Homo sapiens: one gene and its partners. The protein of the gene in region 6 interacts with the protein of the main gene of each other region in a pairwise test. Each region holds a gene or a part of one and is shown on either strand. Other genes may lie near its edges. The genes, in order: APPL1, STX11, TADA2A, BAG4, RCBTB2, FARS2 and GRB10.

Region 1 (3,500 bases), on a different chromosome or scaffold from region 6:
GCTAGCTTATTTAAATTCAAGAACTTTTGCAACATGGTTTATTATGTTGATTTTTTGTTGTGTATGTCTAAACTTCCAATTCATCTGTGTCTTCTAAAGTGCACCAACATTGATCAGTTAGTGTGTGAGGGCAGAGGCCTTCATCATAGTAATTTAGTGATCAATAGTGTTTCTTAATAGGATGGGGCATTTTAGAGCTTTTTTTTTTTAAATGTTAACTGTGGTTTTAATAATTAGATTTCTTCTATGTGGCTCATGGTAACTGACCATGTGTTCATATTTTCTTCTAAACTTTTTAGGCGTACAAATCCATTTGGAGAATCTGGAGGAAGTACAAAATCTGAAACTGAAGGTAAGACAGATGTGCAGCATTCATATATTTTAGAACTGCTTCTCAGCAAACTGTGAATAATTTATTGTTTATATTTGCTCTGCTACTAAGCTCAGTTTTAATGCTATCTTTACTTCAGAATTTCCTCTACTTACTTATAGTACACTTGAAGCAACAGAACTTAATCTGACTTAAGATGTTGTGATTCATACAAAACGATAGACTCTCATACTTTTGACTTTATAGTCAAATTCAGTGCCTAAGATACCTTTCAAGCTTTTCCTAACAGCTGATGTTTCTCTTCTGGTACTGGAGCATAAATTTTGTTTTTCCGCCACTAACTATTTATTTGAATTCTAAACTTACAGAAATGCTGTAAGAACCACCAGTTGTTGTGTGTTTGTGTGTGTGTGTGTGTGTTGAGACAGGGCTCCCTATGTTGCCTAGGCTGGTCTCGAACTCCTGGGCTCAAGGGATCCTCCTGCCTTAGCCTCCCAAAGTGCTAGGATTACAGGTGTGAACCACCACGCCTGGCCTCAGAACTGCCAGTTGTTGAAGCATTACTTTTAGCTATTTGAATTTGAAACCCTAATTTTCCTATAACTTGGAATACTGTAGTTAGGAGTTATTTTGAAATGTCTCCCTTAGGCTGTTGAATTTTTCACTAGAAAACCTAAAAGGAGGCAGTGTATTTTATTCTTTTGGAAAAGAAATATGGCGAAAAAAATAAAATGTAAATTTATACAGTAAAAAAAAAATATGTAATACACCTTGTTCTATTATAGATTCTATTCTTCATCAGTTATTTATTGTCCGATTCCTTGGTTCAATGGAGGTGAAATCAGATGACCATCCAGATGTTGTTTATGAAACTATGCGCCAAATCTTAGCTGCCCGGGCCATCCATAACATCTTTCGTATGACAGAATCGCATTTATTAGTCACTTGTGACTGTTTAAAGTAAGTAAAACCCTCCCTTAAAAAACTGTAGAAAAAACATTTACATGATTTCAGCCTAATTAAAATTTGTTTTCCAATTTTTAAATTATTATTTTAGGTTAATTGATCCACAGACACAAGTTACAAGGCTCACGGTGAGTTCCACATGATTTAAGCTTTGTTTTAGGTCCCTTTGTATATATACACATCTTACAACTTGATAATAATCCTGATCCTGTATATTCAAGTGTGATAGTATCAGCTATGATTGGTCTTTGGCTGTTGTAGTTAAGTCTATGGCCATCTCCAAAAAGTTGTCATTGAACATTTTATGTAACTTAAAAGAATTAACACAATTCTTTTTGTAATTTTTTTAACACAGTTCTTTTTGACTTTGTAAAATGTGTTAATGACTAATAAAACAAATGTAATATTCAACAACCTTTTTCTGCTTGTTAATTCAAACCAAATATGACATTACTTGTTTCTGCATTACAAGTCTGTTAAAATAATTGGCTTTAATATATTAAAATATTTATATTTTTAGAACTTAGCATATGAGTTTGTCACAAGTGCTGCTGTAATGACTTGTAAGATCTCATGTTTGCTTCTGATGTTTTCTGTGGCAGTTTCCATTACCTTGTGTAGTTTTGTATGCTACACACCAGGAAAATAAGCGCCTTTTTGGATTTGTTCTTCGGACATCAAGCGGGAGAAGTGAAAGTAATCTGTCATCAGTCTGCTATATATTTGAGTCAAACAATGAGGGGGAAAAGGTACATGGCTTTTCAGAATATCTCTGTCATAACCACTTACTAATTGATTCTTACTAAGATTTAATAATAATTAAATTCTTACAAATTAAATTAGTTAGTAATTACTGATTGAATTCTTTACAATTTATACAAATTTATGAGGCACATGTGAATTTTGTTACATGTATAGAATGTACAGTAAGCAAGTCAGGGTATTTAGGGTGTCCATCATCCAAGTACAATACATTTTTGTGAAGTATAGTCACCCTACTCTGCTGTCAGATATTAAATATATTCTTTCTATCGTAATTTATGGTTGTACCCTTTAATCAGCTTTTCTTCATCCTCCCCCTTTCCTCATCACTCAGCCTTCCCAGTCTCTGTTGTCTGTCATTCCACACTCTGCCTCCACGTGATCAATTTTTTGGCTCCCACATACAAGTGAGAACATGTGATATTTGTCTTTTTGTGCCTGGCTTATTTCACGTAAGATAATGACTTCTAGTTCCATCCACGTTGTTGTGAATGACATGATTTCATTCTTTTTATGGCTGAATAGTACTCCATTGTGTATATGTACCACATTTTCTTTATTCATTTATCTGTTAATGAACATTTAGATTGACTTAATATCTTTGCTATTGTGAATAGTACTACAGTAAACATGTGAGTGCAGGTATCCTTTTGATACAGATTTCTTTAATTTTGGGTAGATACCCAGTAGTGGGATTGTTGGATCGAATGGTAGTTCTATTTTTAGTTTTTGTTGTTGTTGTTGTTTTTGAGACGGAGTTTCACTCTGTCGCCCAGGCTGGAATGCAGTGGTGCGATCTTGGCTCACTGCAACCTCTGCCTCCTGGGTTCACGCCATTCTCCTGCCTCAGCCTCCCGAGTAGCTGGGATTACAGGTGCCTGCCACCATGCCCGGCTAATTTTTTGTATTTTTAGTAGAGACGGGGTTTCACCGTGTTAGCCAGGATAGTCTTGATCTCCTGACCTCGTGATCTGCCTGCCTCAGCCTCCCAAAGTGCTGGGATTACAGGCGTGAGCCACCATACCCGGTCTATTTTTAGTTTTTTGAGAGATCTCCATACTGTTTTCCATAGTGGTTGTACTAGTTTATGTTCCCACCAACAGTGTATGAGTTCCCCTTTTTTCTGCATTTCACCAACATCTGCTATTTTTTGTCTTTTTAGTGATAGCCATTCTGACTAGGGTAAGAATGGCTCATTGTCATTTTGATTTGCATTTCTCTAATGATTAGTAATGTCGAGCATCTTTTCATATACCTGTTGGCTGTTTTTGTGTCCTTTAAGAAATGCATATTCATATCCTCTGCATACTTTTAAGTGGGATTATTTGATTTTTTCCCTGTTGAGTTCGTTGTATATTCTGGATATTAGTCCCCAGTTGGATGAACAGTTTGCAAATAATTTCTCCCATTCAACAGGTTGTCTGTTTACTCTGTTATTTCT
Region 2 (3,500 bases), about 140 Mb from region 6:
AATGCAGAGGCCTGCTACATGATGCTGTCAGGACTTGACTGAAAGGCGCAAGTTCAGTGTCTCAGGTCAAGTTGCCAGGAAACAGACCCTGAGACTCTGAGATTTCCATACAGGAGGTTTTTATTGGGAAGTGCTCTGGGCACAATACACAGTAGGAGAGAGGGAAACGGGATTGCACAGGGGGAGAGACTGAACTGTGGGGCATGCACAACAGCGGCCTCAACAGGGAGGAGCTTGGAAGCTGGGATTGTTGTTCAGAATTGTTCTGCCTCCTGAGGCAAGAGGCTCAGCATTTGTACCTACATCAACTAATCATTGGATGCAGGCAGCAGCTCCCTTCAGTCCAGGGCAATTTCTGGAACTGGGAGCCTTCAGCAGCCAACCTTCCTAGTACCTGGGGGACTGAGGATCTTGGTCCAGAAGGGGATCTGGATACCACATCATTTACTACATTTGTAGCCAAGAGAGCATTCTCCTCTGCAACAGCCTTGTTTGTGTCTGATGGCCCAGACCATCACCTTGCAGAGTGGAGCCCAGAAAGTTGTCATTTTTTTCCAAGGCCCTTAAGGATTTTAGAATAGTTGACCAGAGAGCAAGAAGACAAAGTAGTCTTAATCCTAAGAAGATTAGGAGCAGAAGAGCCAGGGAGAGTAGGCCGTGGTGAGGGCAGTAGTGGTGTTTAACAAAGAAGGCTAAACTCTGGCACCCAGAGTGGCTAAACTCAGCCACCCAAACAGCTGTGGCTATCCAGACCCAGAACAAAAGCATAACACACACCAGTCCTTGCTGTAATGCTAGGCTTTAACATTGTTAAATGTTGAACAATTTTGTGATATTAGGGTTCCCCCCGCTCTCTCTCTCGCTCTCTCTTTCAAGCCCTTGAAAGTCCTCAAACCAGTCCAGTGTGTAGTCTGTAGATTATAACCTTCAGAATTACCAAAGATATTTCAGTACAAAAAAAAAACAGGGGAAAAACAAAAAAAAAAGAAAAGAGAAATAAAAGTCCAGGGCCCCATTCTAGATCCACTGGAATAGAATCCAGGGGTGGAACCCATGAATTGACATTTTCAACACATTTTCCCCAGAAGATTTTGATACATGCTATAGTTTGAGAACCTTCACCCTAAACTCTTATGCCTTTCGTGGTGACCAACTCTATTGAGATTTTTTCAGATTATCCAGAAGTCATGGGAACCGTGGGACAGCAGAGGAGCACCGGAGCCTTAGTCCCAGCAGGCCTGGTATAGTGAGAGTCATCCCTTGCTTTTCATTTAAATTCTTGATGTGGCCAACAGACAGCACAGCCCAAATTCCTTTGCTGGCTTCTGACCAAGATTGCAAGAGGGAGAGTGGTGTCCCTGGCTTGGCCTTATACTATCTTAGATAGCAGAGTGAGAGATGCCAAATTTTTTGAATAGTTGCAGATGGGGGATGGGAATCAGTGAACTTAGAGGAATCAGTAAACTTTCTAGGAGAATAAGAAGGTTTCAGGATATCTTATGCCAGAGGAAGCTTTGAGGTGCTTTTTTTTAAACTTTAATAATTGTCTAATAAGATCAGAGATAACTTACAGGATAATGTTAAGCATTCATAAATGTAGGATGGATTTCTAGGAGAATAAGAAGGTTTTAGGATATCTTATGCCAGAGGAAGCTTTGAGGTGCTTTCTTAAAACTTTAATAATTGTCTAATGAGATCAGAGATAACTTACAGGAGAATGTTAAGCATTCATAAATGTAGGATGGTATATTATCTGATTCACTGACATTGGCAATGATTTTTTCTTCAAAGGGAAAAGCACTTTTAAGCCTACCAATTTTTACTCCTGAAACACCAAATTGCTGTGTTTCTTACACTTTCCAGGCTTCATGCCTTTGCTGAAGTTGTCTGTGCCTGGGTCCCTTTCCCTTCTCCCTACCAAGCTAACTCCTTTTAAACCTTTTAGGATCAGCTCAGACACCACCTTCCCTGCCCTGTGGCCAGACTGACTTCTCAAAGTATTCCCATAGATCCCTCTATTATGGCATTTATTATCATTATTCTCTCTAACAGCCTGTAAGAGCAAGAACAGTCTTTTTCATTTTTGTGTATGAGAGACCTAGCCTCATCAAAAATGAGTGAAAAAAATAACGATTCTGGTGAGCGTATTTATTCAACAACTATTTATCGAGGCTTTCCTATATGCCGGGTGCTCTGGAGTAAATGGTGCAGACACAACAGGTACAGCTCCTGACCCTATGAAGCTTATGGGCAAGCAGAGAAGATAAGTAACAATTGAATATGTTATCAAACAACTACCAATAAAATATGGTGAGTACCAGAAAAAGCGAAGTGAAATTATAGAGCTGGAAACCCAGCCTAGTCTAAGGTCAGAGGAAGTGTCTCATTTTCCTGAAATATAAGTTATATCAAAATAGAAGTTACGGATTTGGCTTTGGTTACAAGAGACTACTTTTTAACAAAGGAAGATCTTTTGGTTGAGCTAGTTCAAAATTGACTCTGTGTGTGTGTGTGTGTGTGTCCGTCCAGTATGTGGAAAAAGACAGTACAGGAAAATGACGCCTTCATTTAATGAGGTAAAATAGGTAACAAGGAACGGAGAGGGAAGTTTCTGTGTGTCTCATTCAATGCACCATTACTAGAAGTTACTTTGTTAATATTTTAATATGTAATATACAGTGGAAGAAAATAAATGTAAAGCTCTGAAAATCATGAACTTACATCACAGCCTTTTAAAAATTAATCTCAAGGATCTGATTACTACGGCCTAGGAGGGTGCTTGACAGATTTGCTTTTGGGTCTTGTTGGAGACAGTGGGTGAAGTGCATTGCCCCAGAAGTCCATGCCCACTGAGGTTTCTCATCTTTCCAGGTCACTTTTGATGCCCTGGGTGAAGAGGCCACAACCCCAGTGTTGCAATTTGCAACCTCCACCCAGCTTGGTGGCTCATGCTGGGTCCTTTTTCTCCTTTTCTGGCCAGTTCTTGTTTTTTAAAAAAATATTATGATTTTTGAGAGACTCTGTCGCCCAGGCTGGAATGAAATGGCACAATCTCTGCTCACAGTAACCTCCGCCTCCCGGGTTCAAGTGATTCTCCTGCCTCAGCTTCCTAAGTAGCTAGGACTACAGGTGTGCACCACCACACCCAGCTAATTTTTGTATTTTTTTAGTAGAGACGGGGTTTCACTATATTTGGCCAGGCTGGTCTCGAACTCCTGACCTCAGGTGAACCGCCTGCCTCAGCCTACCAAAGTGCTGGGATTACAGGAGTGAGCCACTGTGCCTGGCCTTTTTAAAAATTATTTTTGTACCTCCTTATTTCTCCCCATAAATTGTAAGCTTAGGGTAAGGTTTGAGACTTCCTGATTTTTAACTTTTGAAGCTTTGCAGCTCTTCTGCTGCAATTTATTTACATTTATTATATTCAATAGATAAAGGACCTTAAGTTTAATATATAAGTTAACAGGCAAATCTTGGGTTGAAAAAGTACCAGATTCGTT
Region 3 (3,500 bases), on a different chromosome or scaffold from region 6:
TGAGAATCCAAGTGTCTGTGCATTCTGCCCCCACTGTGCCCCATGGCTCTTCCCTGACCATTGGTGCTGGGACTGTACCTGGGCATTTAGTGTTTGACTCCTGAAAGAGCCAGGCTGCTCCTCAGGAGCACATAGTTGTAAATCCCTAACAAACCCAGGCCCCTGAGCCAGCTGGCATGTGCTAAAGGCTCTTCTAGTATCACACCCTGGCTTTCTCTTCCTGGGTGTGTGTCCTTAGGGAGTGTTCTCTCCAGAGAGGAAGAGACTAAATGGAATGTAGTCCAGCCACCCATCAGCTCCTATAAATAGTTGGAGGTTGATGTCACTTTAAAAAATTTTTTGCTATACCTGCTGGATTAAATTACAAAAATGACAGATGTTAATGTTTATTAAATTTGCCGTGTCTTGCAGCTCTGTCAGATGGTGAGGTTGGTCCCTGGAGCCTATTTAGAATACAAATCTGCTCTATTGAACGAATGTAACAAGCAAGGAGGCTTAAGACTGGCGCAGGCAAGAGCACTCATCAAGATAGATGTGAACAAAACCCGGAAAATCTATGATTTCCTCATCAGAGAAGGATACATCACTAAAGGCTAAGGCTCCAAGAGCTTGGGATCAGAAGTCAGAAGTTTGGAATGTGGTGGGTCAAAGGACAATATGGGTGGGCATTCTGGAGAGTTGTTTTTCAGCTGAATTCTCATGGTGAAAACAGGGGAAAGGACAAAGGAAACCTTAAGTTGTATTGTCTACTTTCTTCTCCATCCTGCTTTAAAACACTCCTGTTGTTGGTATTATGCTGCAGAGTTGTGTGCTACATAAGCTATTATTAAATGTGAGTGGGCATTCATTCCTAACACCTCTTGTAACTAAAAGAACCATAGTACCTCACATCACAGTGCTGGTAGAAATGGAACTAAACCACAGTCTGTAATCCCAGGAGTCCAGCTCAGATCCTTATATTGCGAGGTAAGTTTGCTGATTATCTGTCTTGCCTTCAAACACTGCAGACAGATTTAAAATAAAGAGAAAGGTTTTAGAGCATAAGAAAGCTCTCGTTGAAGGATTTTTTAAGCTGACAACTTTTTTTTTTTTTTTTTGAGACAGAGTTTGCTCTTGTCCTCCAGGCTGGAGTGTGATGGCAAGATCTCAGCTCACTACAACCTCTGCCTCCCAGGTTCAAGTGATTCTCCTGCCTCAGCCTCCCGAATAGCTGGGACTACAGGTGTCCACCACCACACCTGGCTAATTTTGTATTTTTAGTAGAGACAGGGTTTTGTCATGTTGGCCAGGCTGGTCACAAACTCCTGACCTCAGGTGATCTGCCCGCCTCAGCCTCCCAAAGTACTAGGATTACAGGCGTGAGCCATCGCGCCCGGCCTAAGCTGACAACTTTTATGAGTAAAGGGGAAGAAAATATCCTTATGATGGTCTTATCCCAAACTGCATCTTTAACTTCGGCCGGGCAAGGTGGCTCACCTGTAATCCCAGCACTTTGGGAGGCTAAGGTGGGCGGATCACGAAGTCAGGAGTTCAAGACCAGCCTGACCAACATGGTGAAACAGTCTCTACTAAAAATACAAAAATTAGCTGAGTGTGGTGGCACACGCCTGTAATCCCAGCTACTCAGGAGGCTGAGGCAGGAGAATTGCTTGAACACAGGAGGCAGAGGTTGCAGCGAGCTGAGATCACGCCACTGTGCTCCAGCCTGGGCAACAAAGTGAGACTCTGTCTCAAAAAAAAAAAAACAAAAAAAAACCTTTAATGTCTGGCTTTGTACTTTGCAGTCTGCCTGTCTAATCTGCAGTAGTCTTTTGAGGAGGTGGCACCGGATATAACATGTCTCTGTTATTTTTAGAATTAATTAAAATGTTTTGCTATTTAATTTGTGGGTGTGTCAAATATTCTGGTAACTGAAACACACTTAAGGTGTTGGATGCCTGCCCCATCACGCTGCACTGTCTGCTGTCACATGTGTCCTGAACTCACCCTGTTTTTGCCCTGGGTTTCCCAGGATACCAAGCCCCTGAGGATGGAGATGATGCAACAAACCTCAGCTTTGCTTGGATTGTGACTTGAACCCTATTTCTCAATGGTGAAAGGCTAGCCTGCAATAAAAGCTGCTTTTAAAACAGAAGTAAAGCAGCTTTATATATGGGACTCACTAGATATGAGGGTAAGTAGCCCCACCACATGTAAAACTTGGTCCTCAAACGTTTCTGCAGAATAAGAAGCCAAACTTATGGTTATCTTGTTTCTGTTAGAAACAAAGTTGTATATAGAAATAACTTCGTCAGAATCGACACAAATCACATCGAATAGTTGACTGTTTAATTCCTTCTACATTCAAATATCTAATTAAAATACTGTGTGCTTTGTTGGAAGCATCTGCTCAAACTTTTGACTGTTGTAAATATGCATGCAGCTGGGAAGGGATTCATCTAAGGGATAAGAAATGAAAAAGACACTCTAAGGACCTGAGGGAATTCAAATAGAGGACTTCGATTTTTTAAAAAGAATGACGTGGAAATGACCTGTTTTCCTTGTAAAATCATATCTCGTAGAAAACATTTTACCACTACCATCACCCCTAGTTGGTTGTGAAGTGATTGCCTCTTATCCCTGAAAGGAAACTCCTGTTCTGAAAAGTTGGGATGCATTAGCCATCAGTGTTAGGTGACGTCTGTTGTAGTCTGAAGAGTCCTTAACCTTGATTAAGGAAGGCTTCCTGGGAGAGGTGGGCTTTTGGGGCAATTATATGATAGAGAAGAGAGAGAAAAATGGCAGATGGAAGTGGGAGACAATTCCACACACAGGGGGTGGAGAATGATGTGGAGGCAGCAGTGGGTGTAAGGACAATGGTGCCAAGAGATTTATTTGGCTAGAACACAAGGGGCAGCTGGGTAGTTAGGAGTGGGAGGATGGTAGGACAGTCTGACAGAAACCTTGGAAACAGTTGAACTCTGAAAAGCTGATGGCAAATCAGATTTCATGAGGAAAATGGCATGGTTGAAAATAGTAATAGAAAAATAAGACTGAAGTTTTAAATGACTGGATTTTTGAAAGTAGGATTATTATTTCTTTGGTATACCGAACTTTGCAAAGATACGTAGCATTGCATCCTTCCTCTTTGCTTCTAGACAGGGTTGGCCATAAACCAACTACACTGATAGAGGTCTCTCCAGATTGTCTCAGAAGAGAGAGTTTACCCTGAAACTTAATGACATGAATAAAACCTGTTTACTGAAATTTTTATTGCAATTTAACGTTAAAAGTTTCTGCTGGAGTTTTATGCATATTTTTCTCTCTAAGTGGTGGGAAATAAAGAACAAATCTCTTTCCATGTAATGACTCTTCTCTGTGCTCAAAGACCAAGACTCTGTCTCTTGCGATACCAATTAATACTAAATATTCAGTTTATCTTTTCCTGGGTCCCAGTTTCTTTCCTTTTATTGTTAACCGTCTTCACTTCCCCCGCTTTTAAAAATCTGAACTCAGTTAAG
Region 4 (3,500 bases), on a different chromosome or scaffold from region 6:
TTGGCCAAATTAGACCAAAAATCAGTTGAAGTGGGGAAAGAGGAGAGGACCTCTAAACTGATGACTGACTTTTGCTGGGCCTGCTGTATTATCAAAACCAAAGTCTGTTTTCTGGCATAGAGTTAGGGAGGGTTGGATAGACTAAAGAAGTTAAGATTTTAGCATTGTGTAAGGGGTTGTCAGGTGTGGTTTGAGTACATTTGTGCCCACAGGGTGGGTGATGGTGCTGAAGTAGTTGGAGATAAAGGTGGAAATGTGTAATGGGCATTTGTAAACCATTTTAATAGTTTGTACTATCTTTCAGATTGATGATTCTGAAACTTTAAAAGTATAGGATGGTAATTTTTCTGCAGCAATAGAAAACTCATACCAAAGATATGTATGTTGGCCGGGCGTGGTGGCTCACGCCTGTAAACCCAGCACTTTGGGAGGCTGAGGCAGGTGGATCACCTGAGGTCAGGAGTTCGAGACCAGCCTGGTCAACATGGCGAAACCCCACCTCCACTAAAAACACAAAAATTAGCCAGGCATGGTGGCGCATGCCTGTAATCCCAGCTACTAGGGGCACTGAGGCAGGAGGATCATTTGAACCCGGGAGGCAGAAGTTGCAGTGAGCCGAGATCATGCCACTGCACCCCAGCCTGGGCAGCAAAGCGAGACTCCGTCTCAAAAAAAAAAAAAAAAAAAAAAAAAAGATATGCATGTTGTCACAGATGTTGCAATGTTTTTTCCAGATTTGTTATTTTGACTTTTTTTTATGTTTTGCATTTTTATAGTATACATCTGTCAAATTAAAAAAACAAACAGTATAGGAACCTTTTATAACCTTGCTACTCAAAAAGTGTGGTCCATGGACTAGAAGCCTCGGTGTCACTTGTGAGGTTGATAGAAATGCAAAATCTCTCCTCTTCCAGACTTACTGCTGCAATTTATTAAGATCCCCAGGTGATTCATATGCACATTAATATTTCAGAAGCATTGCTCTATAGAACTGATTATATTTAGATGATGTACTGAACTACAACACAGACTTGACTATATTAACACATTTAAGTATGGCAGGGAAAAAATTAGAAATCTATCACTATTTTTTTTTTTTTTTTTGAGACCGAGTTTCACTCTGTTACCCAGGCTGGAGTGCGGTGGCCTGATCTCGGCTCACCGCAAGCTCCGCCTCTTGGGTTCACGCCCTTCTCCTGCCTCAGCCTCCCGAGTAGCTGGGATTACAGGCACCCGCCACCACGCCCGGCCAATTTTTTTGTATTTTTAGTAGAGACGGAGTTTCACCGTGTCAGCCAGGATGGTATCGATCTCCTGACCTCGTGATCCGCCCGCCTTGGCTGGGATTACAGGCGTGAGCCACCGCGCCCAGCCTTTTTTTTTTTAAATTTTTTTTTGAGACGGAGTTTTGCTCTTTTTGCCCAGGCTGGAGCGCAATGGCGCCATCTTGGCTCACTGCAACCTCCACCTCCCAGGTTCAAGCGATTTACTGCCTCAGGCTCCCAAGTAGCTGGGATTACAGGCACCCGCCACCATGCCCGACTACTTTTGTATTTTTGGTACCCGGCCACTCCCTATGTTTTTTTAGAGTAAAACTTTAGGCTGGGTGCGGTGTCTCACGCCTGTAATCCCAGCACTTTGGGAGGCTGAGGCAGGCAGATCATCTGAGGTCAGGAGTTTGAGACCAGCCTGGCCAACGTGGTGAAACCCCGTCTCTACTAAAAATACAAAAATTAGCCAGGTGTGGTGGCTCACACCTGTAATCCCAGCTACTTGGGAGGCTGAGGCAGGAGAACCACTTGAACCTGGGAGATGGAGGTTGTAGTGAGCCGAGATCACACCACTGCACTCCAGCCTGGGCAACAGAGCAAGACCTTGTCCCAGAAAAAGAAAAACAAAAATTAGCCGGGCGTGGTGGCGGGCGCCTGTAATTGCAGCTAGTCTGAGAATTGCTCAAACCAGGGAGGCGGTGGTCGCAGTGACCGAGATCATGCCACGAACTCCAGCCTGGGCTGCCTAGCGAGACTATCTCAAAAAAAAAAAAAAAAAAAAAAAAAAAAAAGGAAGTAAGGGAAAAGAGTTAGAGTTGAGAAACCTTTTGAGCTAAAGGGAGAAAAGTAACAAGTTTGGAGTTGGAGCAGAGGGGCATTGACAGCTATTGGTCTCCTTTCGTGGTGGAGTAGGAAGCTAGGTCATCTTACAGTAAGGGAAGTAGAATGGGATGCTCTGCAAAATTTATGTGGTAAATGTTTGAACCAGATGCTGGGGCAAGAGGGACAACACAGAGAAGCATTTGGAAGAGATCCAAATGAGTTTGAAAAGTTAAAAAATTATGATGGTCAGTATAGGAGCATAAGGTGATTTGTTAGTGATTATGAACCATATAGCTATACAAATAACTTATGTACTTTACTAATAATTTTTGTCCAATTCTTATGAAAAATATAAGCAAATCTGTAAATGGAATTTATGTAGTACGAGTGCTACTGATTCCTCTGCTGTTAGATTTGCTTGGACTGGGGTTTCAGTTTGGGGGAATGTTGGTAAGTCATTTTGGAAAATGTAATCACATATCCACTTTAAAGGAATTGACTCCAGTCTTCAGCTGGGATTATTTATTTCTCAGAAGAAAGGAAATAAATTAGTTATCTTGCATAATTTTAATCAAATTTTCTTTGGCATAGAACTTTAATTCACATTATTGTGGCTTGTGAAAACATTTTATTACCTTTGTTTTAGTTTGTATTTCATTCAACAAATAAAAAGTTTGGAAAGAGTTAGGCACATGATAAAATTGGTAACTTAGTTTATAGAATAGAGTTCAGCTTCAGCCAGTTTCCTGTGAAACCAAATGCTATTTCATAGAATTAGTGTCATGTTGGGAGGGCCATGAGCTACAGACTTTCACTGTTACTAGGGATATTTTTAGATTTGTCCCATTTTGTCCAAAAGGAGGAAAAAAAAGACAAAGACATTATTTTTTTCCTTAAGACAATAAAATTATACTTTTTAGTGCTTCATTGAGGACATTCTTTTTTTCATTAAAAAAATTATGGCATAATTTACAAAAAGTAAATTTCACTGTCTTTAGGGTATAGTTCTGTGAGTTTTGATAAATACATACAATTACATAACCACCACCACCACCACCACCACAACTGAGCTATACATACTGACCCATCTTTTTTTTTTTTTTTTTTTTTTTTTTTAGACAGAGTCTCTCTTTGTCGCCCAGGCTGGAGTGCAGTGGCGAAATCTCGGCTCACTGCAAGCTCCGCCTCCCGGGTTCATGCCATTCTCCCACTTCAGCCTCCTGAGTAGCTGGGACCACAGGCGTCCGCCAGCAGGCCTGGCTAATTTTTTTTTGTATTTTTAGTAGAGATGGGGTTTCACCATGTTAGCCAGGATGGTCTCGATCTCCTGACCTTGTGATCCACCTGCCTCAGCCTCCCACAGTTCTGGGATTACAGGCATGAGCCACTGTGCCTGGCCACCTTTAA
Region 5 (3,500 bases), on a different chromosome or scaffold from region 6:
ACTAAAATGTCTCTGTTTTCTTTGACCAAAGGAGAGGATATCCTTATACCAAAAGGAAACTGACTCGAAGATGTTACAGCCTGTTTCCTAAAGATTTGGTTCTAAGATTGGTTTTCTTTCCTTTCTTTATTATCATAACAATACATGGTCACTGTAAAAGTTAAAAAAAAATAAGCAAAGAGAAGAAAATAAAAATCACCCACAATCCCACCATTCAATGATAACCACTAAGCATAGTTTTCAGTCTTTTTTTCTATGTAGATAATGAATTTTAGTTTTTTATTCAGCTATTTATACTTTTTCAAAAAATAAAAATAGGATAAGTTTTTCACTTAGTGATATATCTTGAATAGCTGCATAATTTCTTGATATTAACATTTTATAAACAAGCCTCCACTATTCACACTAACCTTTTTCTGATTTTTCAAAATTATAAACTGCTGAAGTAAACACCTTTGAAGCTAAGTCTTTGTGCAAATCCATGATTAATTCCTCAAGATAAATACTTGTGAGTGAATTCCTTGAAGAATTATGTCTTTAATTTAAGGTGCTTAATACATATTATACCAAATTGTTCTCCATACCAATTTGTACTCTCATCAGCAGTTTAGGAGAACACCATTATTCTGATCCTATACATTATCTCTAAAAATATATTCCTGCTTTGACAGGTGAAAAGTTATACCTTGTTTTCATTTATGTTTTTTGTCTATTTATAGAGCCATTTGTTCTTTGGTCCATTTCTTTCAACCAAACTGTTCCTATTGTCTTTTTGTTTTTCACTCTGGTAAACAGACTTCATTATATGTTGCAAGTATTTTTCCCAGTGTCTCATTACTTTGTAAGTTTCTCTATGGTATTTTTAAGTGGATAAAAGTTTCTTATCTTTTTAAATCAGAGCTATAAATCCTTTATGGCTTCTGCCTTTGATGTCCATCCCAACATTATATAAATACTTGCTTATACGTTGTCTAGTACTCTTGTTACTTCATTTTTTAAAAAATATTAAATATTTCCTCTACCCAGACTTTCTTTTAGTTTAAGGTACGAGGCAGACACCTGGGTTCCATTTCTCCAGGAGGCCGGCAGCTGGAAGCAAGCTTTCCTTACCTGTGCATCATACTTCACCGCAGCCGAGAGCAGAGCGATGGCATTCTCCTCGCAGATGCCTTGCTTGATAGTTTGTTGGCAGAGCTTTTTCAAACGATTTTCTCTATAAAATGTAGCCAAGTCTAGCAGTCCTGGCGGAAAGAGGTGTTTATTAGGGGGAGTGATTTCAAGCATCCTGATTTACAGTTGCTCACTCAGCCACTCAGAGATGATTTTGACACTATTTTAGATATAATCCTCAGTGAAGCACTGCATAGACTGATGCTGACTGACACTTACACTTCAGTGTGGGGCTCTACCCAGGATGGCAGCCAAGCTGAGCAAACATGATACACAAATCATTAGCTGTTGAAAAACAGGAGCACAGGGAAAATAGCTTTAATATTTTTTTCCTAGGAAAAAAGCATGTGCGCCTTGAATGACCCCTTCCCCTGCAATCTCAATGTCAGCTTCTCCTGGGCCACTCCCAGGAGCACACACACATGCTGTAAGAGTGCCCGCCGTGAAAAGAAAGAAAAGAAAAGAAGAAAAGAAAACAAAAGAGAAGAAAAGAAGAGAGGACAGGAGAGGGAGGGGAGGGGAAGGGAGGGGAGAAGAGAAGAGGGGAGGGGAGAGGAGGGGAGGGGAGAGGAGGGGAGGGGAGAGGAGGAGAGGGGAGAGGAGGGGAGGGGAGACCCTTTCATGGACACGTGTCTTCCTCCTGTTACCCTATCCCACTGCTCCTCTCTACAGCAAAACTCCTAGACAGAGCTATCTGTATCTGCTGTCTCCATTTTCCCACCTCCCATTCTGACCTCAAGCCATTACAAGCAGAACCCCATCCCCACCACTACTGCAGTCACACCCTTGGTGGTCACACCTGTGGCAGTCACAGTGGCTTTGAGGGTGCAATATTCTCTGGTTTCCTCTTACTCGACATTTACACAGAATTTGATATGGTTGATAATGCTCTCCTTAGGACACTTTGTCACTTGCTTGCATTTTTCTTCTCTTTAATTAGTTGCTCCTCAGTTCTCTAGGCTGGATCATTTTTCCTGACTTCCAAATGTTTGAGTGCCCCAGGGTTAAATCCTCAGACACTTTCCTCACTTACTTCCCAAAACCCCAGCCCCAGGGTTTTAAATATCATCTATATATGCAGGTGAGTCCTGTTATATTACCTGTCACCTATTTTCAAGTAATTCAACGTAGACTGGGTGAGGTGACATATGTAAATTAATTTTAATCTACCCCAAGGAATGATAGGAAGTACTCTAATTGAAGCAGTCAATCAGCATCTGAAAGATCCTATTTGTTTTTCTGAATCTTCATTACAGGATTTGTAATTAGCATAAAGAATGTCAGAATTAGTTTGTCATTGCTGAAATGAGTGGTAGCCAGGATCAAAAGGCTAGCTGAATCCGGCTACTAGAACACTGTCATGTCCACCTCAAGCTAACTTTTCATGCAAGGTACTTAATAGAGTGTACGAAGTATAAAGAGCAGGGATTTCATCAATTTTACCATATTAATTGTTTTTGTGTCTATCTGCTAATAAATCTTATACATGTGGTAGACTTTGGTTGGAAACTTGCTTTTTTAATAACAAATATTATCAAAGTTATAGAGGAAAGACAGATAGCCCACTGGAGGACACTGAAATCTTGAGTTGTGAATGGCTTCATTGTTTTTGGCCCCAAGCTTCAGACACACATGCAAGCTGCACTGCCCTAAGAGAGGACTCTGCCCCAAGCCCCAGCTCTGCGCCTCCTCCACGCACACCTTCAGCACAGGGTGGCTAAGGAGCCACATGCCCACTTCTAGACCACACTTTGGGTACCTGGGAACCTGGGACTGCCTGCATAATTGGCCTTGAGGCCACATGTGTGGGTATTTCCTCCCTTAGACCCCACCACCAATGTGCAGACCCCCTGGCCCAAAAGGGTAACCTGGGTTGGGGGTGGATAGAGCTTGGAATGCAAGCTAGGGTGCCCACACACCCTTCTGCTGGAGGAGGGGTCTGTCCTGCCTGTGCCATTGGGTTCTGGCACAAGAAGTCCTGCAACTCTAAATGTCAACTAAAATTGAAACCTGTCCTTTCAGTTCTTAATGAAATTACATTTTTCAAGGTGGGAGGATTGGACATATTTTTATCTGAAGTTCACTAGCTTGACATATAACTTTAAGTTTTTAGACATATGGAACATAGGTCTCCATTTGGAGTCTTGGCTACAGCCCCACAAATGTTAGTGGTGGGCCGATAAAAAACTGCCACTCGCGGCCGGGCGCAGTGGCTCACGCCTGTAATCCCAGCACTTTGGGAGGCCAAGATGGGCGGATCACCTGAGGTCGGGAGTTCAAGACCAGCCTGACCAACACGGAGAAACCTCGTTTCTACTAAAAATACAAAA
Region 6 (3,500 bases):
GTCTGTTCATATCCTTCGCCCACTTTTTGATGGGGTTGTTTGATTTTTTTCTTGTAAATTTGTTTAAGTTCTTTGTAGATTCTGGATATTAGCCCTTTGTCAGATGGATAGATTGCAAAAATTTTCTCCCATTCTGTAGGTTGCCTGTTCACTCTGATGGTAGTTTCTTTTGCTGTGCAGAAGCTCTTTAGTTTAATTAGATCCCATTTGTCAATTTTGGCTTTTGTTGCCATTGCTTTTGGTGTTTTAGACACGAAGTCCTTGCCCATGCCTATGTCCTGAATGGTATTGCCTAGGTTTTCTTCTAGGGTTTTTATGGTTTTAGGTCTAACATTTAAGTCTTTAATCCATCTCACATTAATTTTTGTATAAGGTGTAAGGAAGGGATCCAGTTTCAGCTTCTACATATGGCTAGCCAGTTTTCCCAGCACCATTTATTAAATAGGGAATCCTTTCCCCATTTCTTATTTTTGTCAGGTTTGTTAAAGATCAGATGGTTGTAGATGTGTGGTATTATTTCTGAGGGCTCTGTTCTGTTCCGTTGATCTATATCTCTGTTTTGGTAACAGTACCATGCTGTTTTGGTTATTGTAGCCTGGTAGTATAGTTTGAAGTCAGGTAGCGTGATGCCTCTAGCTTTGTTCTTTTTGCTTAGGATTGACTTGGCAATGCGGGCTCTTTTTTGGGTCATATGAACTTTAAAGTAGTTTTTTCCAATTCTGTGAAGAAAGTCATTGGTAGCTTGATGGGGATGGCACTGAATCTATAAATTACCTTGGGCAGTATGGCCATTTTCACGATATTGATTCTTCCTATCCATGAGCATGGAATGTTCTTCCATTTGTTTGTGTCCTCTTTTATTTCATTGAGCAGTGGTTTGTAGTTCTCCTTGAAGAGGTCCTTCACATCCCTTGTAGGTTGGATTCCTAGGTATTAGAACTAGAAATACCATTTCACCCGGCAATCTCATTACTGGGTATATACCCAAAGGATTATAAATTATGCTCTGTAAAGACACATGCACACATGTGTTTATTGCAGCACTGTTCACAATAGCAAAGACTTGGAACCAACCCAAATGTCCATCAATGATAGACTGGATTAAGAAAATGTGGCACATATACACCATGGAATACTATGCAGCCATAAAAACGGATGAGTTCATGCCCTTTGTAGGGACATGGATGAAGCTGGAAACCATCATTCTGAGCAAACTATCGCAAGGACAGAAAACCAAACACCGCATGTTCTCACTCATAGGTGGGAATTGAACAACGAGAACACTTGGACACAGGATGGGGAACATCGCACACCGGGGCCTGTGGTGGGGTTGGGGGAGGGGGGAGGGATAGCATTAGGAGATATACCTAATGCCAGCATGGCACATGTGTACATATGTAACAAACCTGCACCTTGTGCACATGTACCCTAGAACTTAAAGTATAATAAAAAAAAAAATGAAAATAACCAAAAAAAAAAAAAGAGAAAAGAAGAGTCCTTTCATTGCTGTTTAGCAGTATCTCATTTTAGTAATTTTTCTAGTGACATATTTGAAGTTCTGATTGACTTCTTCGAATGAGTGTATTAGCCGCCATCTCTTGTTTGTTCAGGTCAGTAGGTTGTTTACAGAAAACATTTAGAATTTGCAGTGTTGAGTCTGTTTACAAAAAACAGCCTACATTTTGCTAATCACTGGAAAAATACTAGGTCAGTGTCTTAAGATGTGCAATACTGAGATCTGTGATGTTAACTGATCTCTCAGAGGATGGGTCGATACATATCGTTGATAGTATACTGTAGACTGTTATTAACAATAGAAGATATACAGAGAATTCATGATTTCTTTGGTATTATAGTGAATTACATGATTTAATATTTTATAACGTTTTAATGTAAACATTTATTTTCTGAGCACAATTGAAGCACTTCAGCCTGGCAAACTTGTAATCTGTATGTGTAATTGTGAGTTTGAGTTAACTAACAATATTTAAGAGTTATAAAAGCCTGGCTTCTGTGAAATGGATTACAGTAATATTGGCAGAGAGTAAAACAGTTAGTTTCAGTTAATGAAGATGAGTTTTTTGGGAGAATTATCTTTTTTTAAATCAATTCCTGGAATTCTGCAGTGCAAAGGGAAAGTAAAATGAAGCAGTCATGAAATAGAAAAAGCTTAGCAGGCAGCATACTTTCTTTCCTGTTTCTTGACGTTCTGAGATAAGCACATTGTTATTTATTTCAAGTCTTGGAGCACTTTGAGACAAGCACATGTGCCTGGGCATTCATAACATTAAGCCCTGTTAGGAATCCCACTTACACCCTTGGCTTCTGCGTACTGTGAGAGCTGGGCTGGATGATAATTACAGTCAGCTTTCATTTGTAGAGCCCAGGTCTTCAAATAATTTCCAAGTAAACTATCCCAGATTAATACGTTTCAGGACATAAGTGTGGTTCGCTAGAGCTGTCAAGCTGTCTGGATGCCCTTCTGTTAACTTTGTAGAAGAGATTCCACGTGTGTCAAGTTACAGTGTTTGCTGAAATTTTTCTGTTGTCTTGAAAGCTATTTGAAAATGAAATGTTCATTATAGTACTGGTGGTCAGGTATGTTCCTTAGATATATATGAATTAATGTCACCACACTATAGACAGTAATTTTTATATCACCTTCTCTCCAAAAACCTGCAGCACTTTTAGGATGAAGTCTAATTCCTTAACACAGCCTATGAGACCCTGACGACTATGGCGCTTACCCACTTCTCCAGTCCCATGTCATACCTTTTTATTTTTCGCTTGCTGCTTTTCATTCTTTAGTACTCACCTCTTTCCCCTCTACCCTGGGGACCTTTGCAAATGCTGATCCAGCTGCCTGGAGTGCCCTTCCTTCCCTTGCTAATTATTCTTCTGATCTCAGTTTAAGAGATGCTTACTCAAAGCTACCTTCTCTAACTTGAGTACATCTTCCTCTGTTAAGCTCCCTTAGTATGGTGAATTGCTCTTCAGCTTAGAGTGACTGCCATTGCAAGTAACTGAAGTCAAATTGTTTTAAACAAACCTAGTGGCTTTATTGTCTCCTGTGTCTTGAGGGTTCAGAAGCCAGATGGGCTTTAGGGTTGATTGGTTTGAGTGATGTTGCCAAAGATTCAATTTTGTGCTTTTCTCTACTTTGTCTTCTCTAACGTAAATTTTATCGTCTGGCCAGAGTCCTCTCTCTCGGTTATGGGAAACCATCAACAGTTTGGGGGCGCTTGTTTCCAAAACCTTAGAGGAGTGAGAGAGCTTCTGGACCAAGAGTGCTCAGCAGTCCTCTCCGTTCATGTCACTGGCCCTCCTTGTGTCATGTCCTCATCCATTTCTGAACCAATAACTGTGACCAGGGAGAAGATAGGATTCTTTTGGTCTTGAACCAGTTGCCTAGCTCCTAGAGATAAAGGGGAATTATTTTTTGTAAAAGGAACAAAGTTCACTAGAGCAATCTTGCCAGAGTTATATTTTTTTATTTGATT
Region 7 (3,500 bases), on a different chromosome or scaffold from region 6:
AACTGAGTAACAAAAAGCAAATCAAAACCACAATGAGCAATCATCTGATGCCTTGTATTAGTCCGTTTTCATGCTGCTGATAAAGACATATCAGAGAACTGGGCAATTTACAAAAGAAAGAAGTTTAATGGACTCATATTTCCACGTGGCTGAGGAGGCCTCAAAATCATGACAGAAGGTGAAAGGCATGTCTCACATGGTGGCAGACAAGAGAAGAGAACTTGTGCAGAGAAACTCCCCTTTATAAAACCATCAGATCTCATGAGACTTATTCACTATCACTAGAATAGCATGGGAAAGACCCAACCCCGTGATTCAATTACCTCCCACCAGGTCCCTCCCATAGCATGTGGAAATTATGGGAGCTACAATTCAAGATGAGATTTGGGACACAGCCAAACGATGTAACACCTATTAGGACAGCTATAAGGAAAGAAAGGGGAAGGGGAAGGGGAAGAAAGGCAAGGGAAGAGGAAGCGGAATGGGAAGGGAAGGGGAAGGGAAGGGGAAGGGGAAGGGGACGGGGAAGGGAAGGGGAAGGGGAGAAAGGGGAAGGGAGGGGAGGGGAAGGCAGGGGAGGGGAAGGCAGGGGAGGGGAGGGGAGGGGAGGGGAGAGGAGAGGAGAGGAGAGGACAGGAAACGAAAAATGCCAAGTGTTGGCAAGAATGTGGAGAAACTGAAACCCTTGTGCATTATTATTGGGAATGTAAAATGGTGCAGCTGCTCTAGAAAACAGTTTGGCAGTTCCTCAAAAAGCTAAGCATAGAATTACCATATAATGAAGCAATTATAATCTAGACATATATACAAAAACATGGAAAGCAAGTACTCAAAGATAGTTATACACCAATGTTTACAGAAGCATTATTCACAATACCCAAAAGGTAGAAACATAAATGTCCATCAACAGTTGAATAAACAAAAAGTAGTATATACATACAAGGGAATTTATTTGTTTGTTTATTTATTTATTTATTTTGAGACGAAGTCTCGCTCTATCACCCAGGCTGGAGTGCAGTGGCGTGATCTCAGCTCACTGCAAGCTCCGCCTCCCGGGTTCATGCCATTCTCCTGCCTCAACCTCCCAAGCAGCTGGGACTACACATACAAGGGAATATTATTCAGCCATAAAAAGGAATGAAGTACTAATGCATGCTACAACATAGATTAACCATGAAAACATTATGCTAAGTGAAAGAAGACACTCACAAAAACCACAGACGATTCTATTCACATGAAATGTCCTGGACAGGGAAATCTATGCAGACAGAAAGTAGAGTTCCTTAGGGTTGGGAAAGCAGGGGGAGCAATGGGATGGCAGGGAGTGGGGGTATGATAGCTAAAGGGTGCAGGGTCTCTTTTTGTTCTAAAATTGACTATGGTGGCGGTTGCACATAGCTGTGAATATATTAATTGAACACTATATACAATGTATGTGTGTGTGTTTATTCATTTCTGCAGTTATAACAAAATACTTGAGACTGGATAACTTATAAAGAACAAAATCTATTTCTCACAGTTCTAGAAGCTGGGAAGTTCAAGATCAAGATGCCAGCACTTGGTGTCTGGTGAGGGCCTTCTTGCTGTGCCCTCACATGGCAGAATGCAGAAGTGCAAAAAGGGGATCCTAGCTAGTTCTCTCCAGCCCTTTGATGGGGGCAAGAATCCATTCATGGGACTGGAGCCCTCATGACCTTATCACTTCCCAAAAGCCATACCTCTTAATAGAGTTGCGTTGGGGAAGTGATAAGGCCATAAGGAGACACAAACATTCAAACCATGGCATTCCACCCCAAGTCCCCCAAATTTATGTCTTTCTCACATACAAAATACATTCATTCCATCCCAATAGCCCCAATGTCTTATCTCAGGCCAGGATCAATTCAAAAGTCTGAAGTCTAAAATTTCATCTAAATCAGACATGTGAGACTCAAAGATGTGTTTCAACCTGAGGCAAAGTACTTCAGACTTCAGCAGTGGCTCACTCCTGTAATCTCAGCACTGTCGGAGGTTGAGGCGGCCGGACTTCTTGAGCCCAGGAGGTCGAGACCAGCCTGGGCAACATGGCAAAACCCCATCTCTAATACCAAAAACAAAACAAAACAAAAAAAAAAACTAGCTGGGCGTGATGGCACACGCCTGTAGTCCCAGCTACTCAGCAGGCTGAAGTGGGAAGATAGCTTGAGCCCAGGAGGCAGAGGTTGCAGTGAGCCGAGATCACACCACTGTACTCCAGCCTGAATGACACAGTGAGATCCTGTCTCCAAAAAAAAAAAACAAAAAAAAACAGTGGAACAGACAAAGAACAGACATTCCCATTACAAAAGGGAGAAATAGGAAAGAAAAAAGAGGTAACATTTCCCAACCAAATCCAAAACCAAACAGGACAAACATTAAATCAATGGTAAGGCTGGAGAATAAATCTTTGGTTCCATGTCCTGCCTTCCAGACACAATGGGGCAGGAGTTGGGTTCCCAAGGACCTGGGCAGCCCTGCAGCCAACTGCTGGGCACAGCCCTCATAGCAGCTCTCACAGGTTGCAGTTGGGTACCTGCAGCTCTCCCAGGCTGGCACTACACACGGGTAACTCTACAGTTACAGGCTCTCGAGGGCAGCCCCACCCCCACAGCTCCATTAGGCATTGTCCTTGTGGGAGCTCGCTAGTGTGCCCCCAGCCTCAAGACTCTGCTGGACATTGCCCTAGTGGGGGCTCTTTTTGGCACTCCTGCCCCATGGCTCTATTAGGCATTATCCTAGCAGGGAGTCTCTGCAGCAGACCTATCCTGCAGCAATTCTCTGTCTGAGCCCAAGACTCTCTGAGGCATCCTTTCAAATCTAGGTGAAGGTAGCCATGCATCCACAGCTCTTGCACTCTGCATACTTGCAGACTTAGCGCCATGTGGATGCCACCTAGGCTTATGCCCTGTGCCTTCCACAGCAATGGAACTAGCTGCACTTGAGCCCCCTTGAGCTACAGCTGGGATATCCAAGGAGGGCTGCACTGTAATGCAGAGAGCAGAGAAGTGATGCCAGGCAGTGAATGCTGAGGTCCTGCAGACGCCCAAGGCCTCTCCTTTGACATAAGTTCTGTTCCCTGGGCCTTGGTACTCTGGGCCTCTGATGGGAGGGGCAGCACTGATAATCTCTGAAATGCCTTCAGGATCATTCTTCCATTATCTTGATGAATAGCATCTGGCTTCCTTCTATCCATACTAATCTCCTTATCAAAAGGTCACTTGGCCACACCCTTAGTGTTTTCTCCCAAACATGTTTTTACAACCTGGGCAAGCTAAAAATTTTCCATATCCTTAAATTCTGCTTCCTTTTCTTTTTTGGAAACAGGGTCTCATTCTGTCACGCAGGCTAGAGCGCAGCAGCAGAATCATGGCTCACTGTAGCCTTGACCTCCCAGACTCAAGTGATCTTCCCACTTCAGTCCCCTTGAGTAGCTGGGGCTAAGTGCACACCACCACACTCCGCTAATTTTTTTTTTTTTTTAC

The links.
Region 1: the proteins of FARS2 (region 6) and APPL1 interact in binary tests that used the Homo sapiens proteins (3 or more experiments, as listed by UniProt).
Region 2: the proteins of FARS2 (region 6) and STX11 interact in binary tests that used the Homo sapiens proteins (3 or more experiments, as listed by UniProt).
Region 3: the proteins of FARS2 (region 6) and TADA2A interact in binary tests that used the Homo sapiens proteins (3 or more experiments, as listed by UniProt).
Region 4: the proteins of FARS2 (region 6) and BAG4 interact in binary tests that used the Homo sapiens proteins (3 or more experiments, as listed by UniProt).
Region 5: the proteins of FARS2 (region 6) and RCBTB2 interact in binary tests that used the Homo sapiens proteins (3 or more experiments, as listed by UniProt).
Region 7: the proteins of FARS2 (region 6) and GRB10 interact in binary tests that used the Homo sapiens proteins (3 or more experiments, as listed by UniProt).

Annotation. Positions count from the first base shown.
Region 1 is NC_000003.12:57,258,729-57,262,228, forward strand, and holds part of APPL1 (DCC-interacting protein 13-alpha), read left to right. Parts: intron 1-299; coding exon 300-352; intron 353-1,116; coding exon 1,117-1,291; intron 1,292-1,388; coding exon 1,389-1,425; intron 1,426-1,899; coding exon 1,900-2,046; intron 2,047-3,500. UniProt on the Homo sapiens protein: Multifunctional adapter protein that binds to various membrane receptors, nuclear factors and signaling proteins to regulate many processes, such as cell proliferation, immune response, endosomal trafficking and cell metabolism.
Region 2 is NC_000006.12:144,157,017-144,160,516, forward strand, and holds part of STX11 (syntaxin-11), read left to right. Parts: intron 1-3,500. UniProt on the Homo sapiens protein: SNARE that acts to regulate protein transport between late endosomes and the trans-Golgi network.
Region 3 is NC_000017.11:37,476,386-37,479,885, forward strand, and holds the end of TADA2A (transcriptional adapter 2-alpha), read left to right. Parts: intron 1-411; coding exon 412-597; 3' UTR 598-3,340; downstream 3,341-3,500. UniProt on the Homo sapiens protein: Component of the ATAC complex, a complex with histone acetyltransferase activity on histones H3 and H4. Required for the function of some acidic activation domains, which activate transcription from a distant site. Binds double-stranded DNA.
Region 4 is NC_000008.11:38,179,855-38,183,354, forward strand, and holds part of BAG4 (BAG family molecular chaperone regulator 4), read left to right. Parts: intron 1-3,500. UniProt on the Homo sapiens protein: Inhibits the chaperone activity of HSP70/HSC70 by promoting substrate release. Prevents constitutive TNFRSF1A signaling. Negative regulator of PRKN translocation to damaged mitochondria.
Region 5 is NC_000013.11:48,495,081-48,498,580, forward strand, and holds part of RCBTB2 (RCC1 and BTB domain-containing protein 2), read right to left. Parts: intron 1,242-3,500; coding exon 1,111-1,241; intron 1-1,110.
Region 6 is NC_000006.12:5,268,013-5,271,512, forward strand, and holds part of FARS2 (phenylalanine--tRNA ligase, mitochondrial), read left to right. Parts: intron 1-3,500. UniProt on the Homo sapiens protein: Is responsible for the charging of tRNA(Phe) with phenylalanine in mitochondrial translation.
Region 7 is NC_000007.14:50,772,897-50,776,396, forward strand, and holds part of GRB10 (growth factor receptor-bound protein 10), read right to left. Parts: intron 2,265-3,500; exon of another isoform or gene 1-2,264.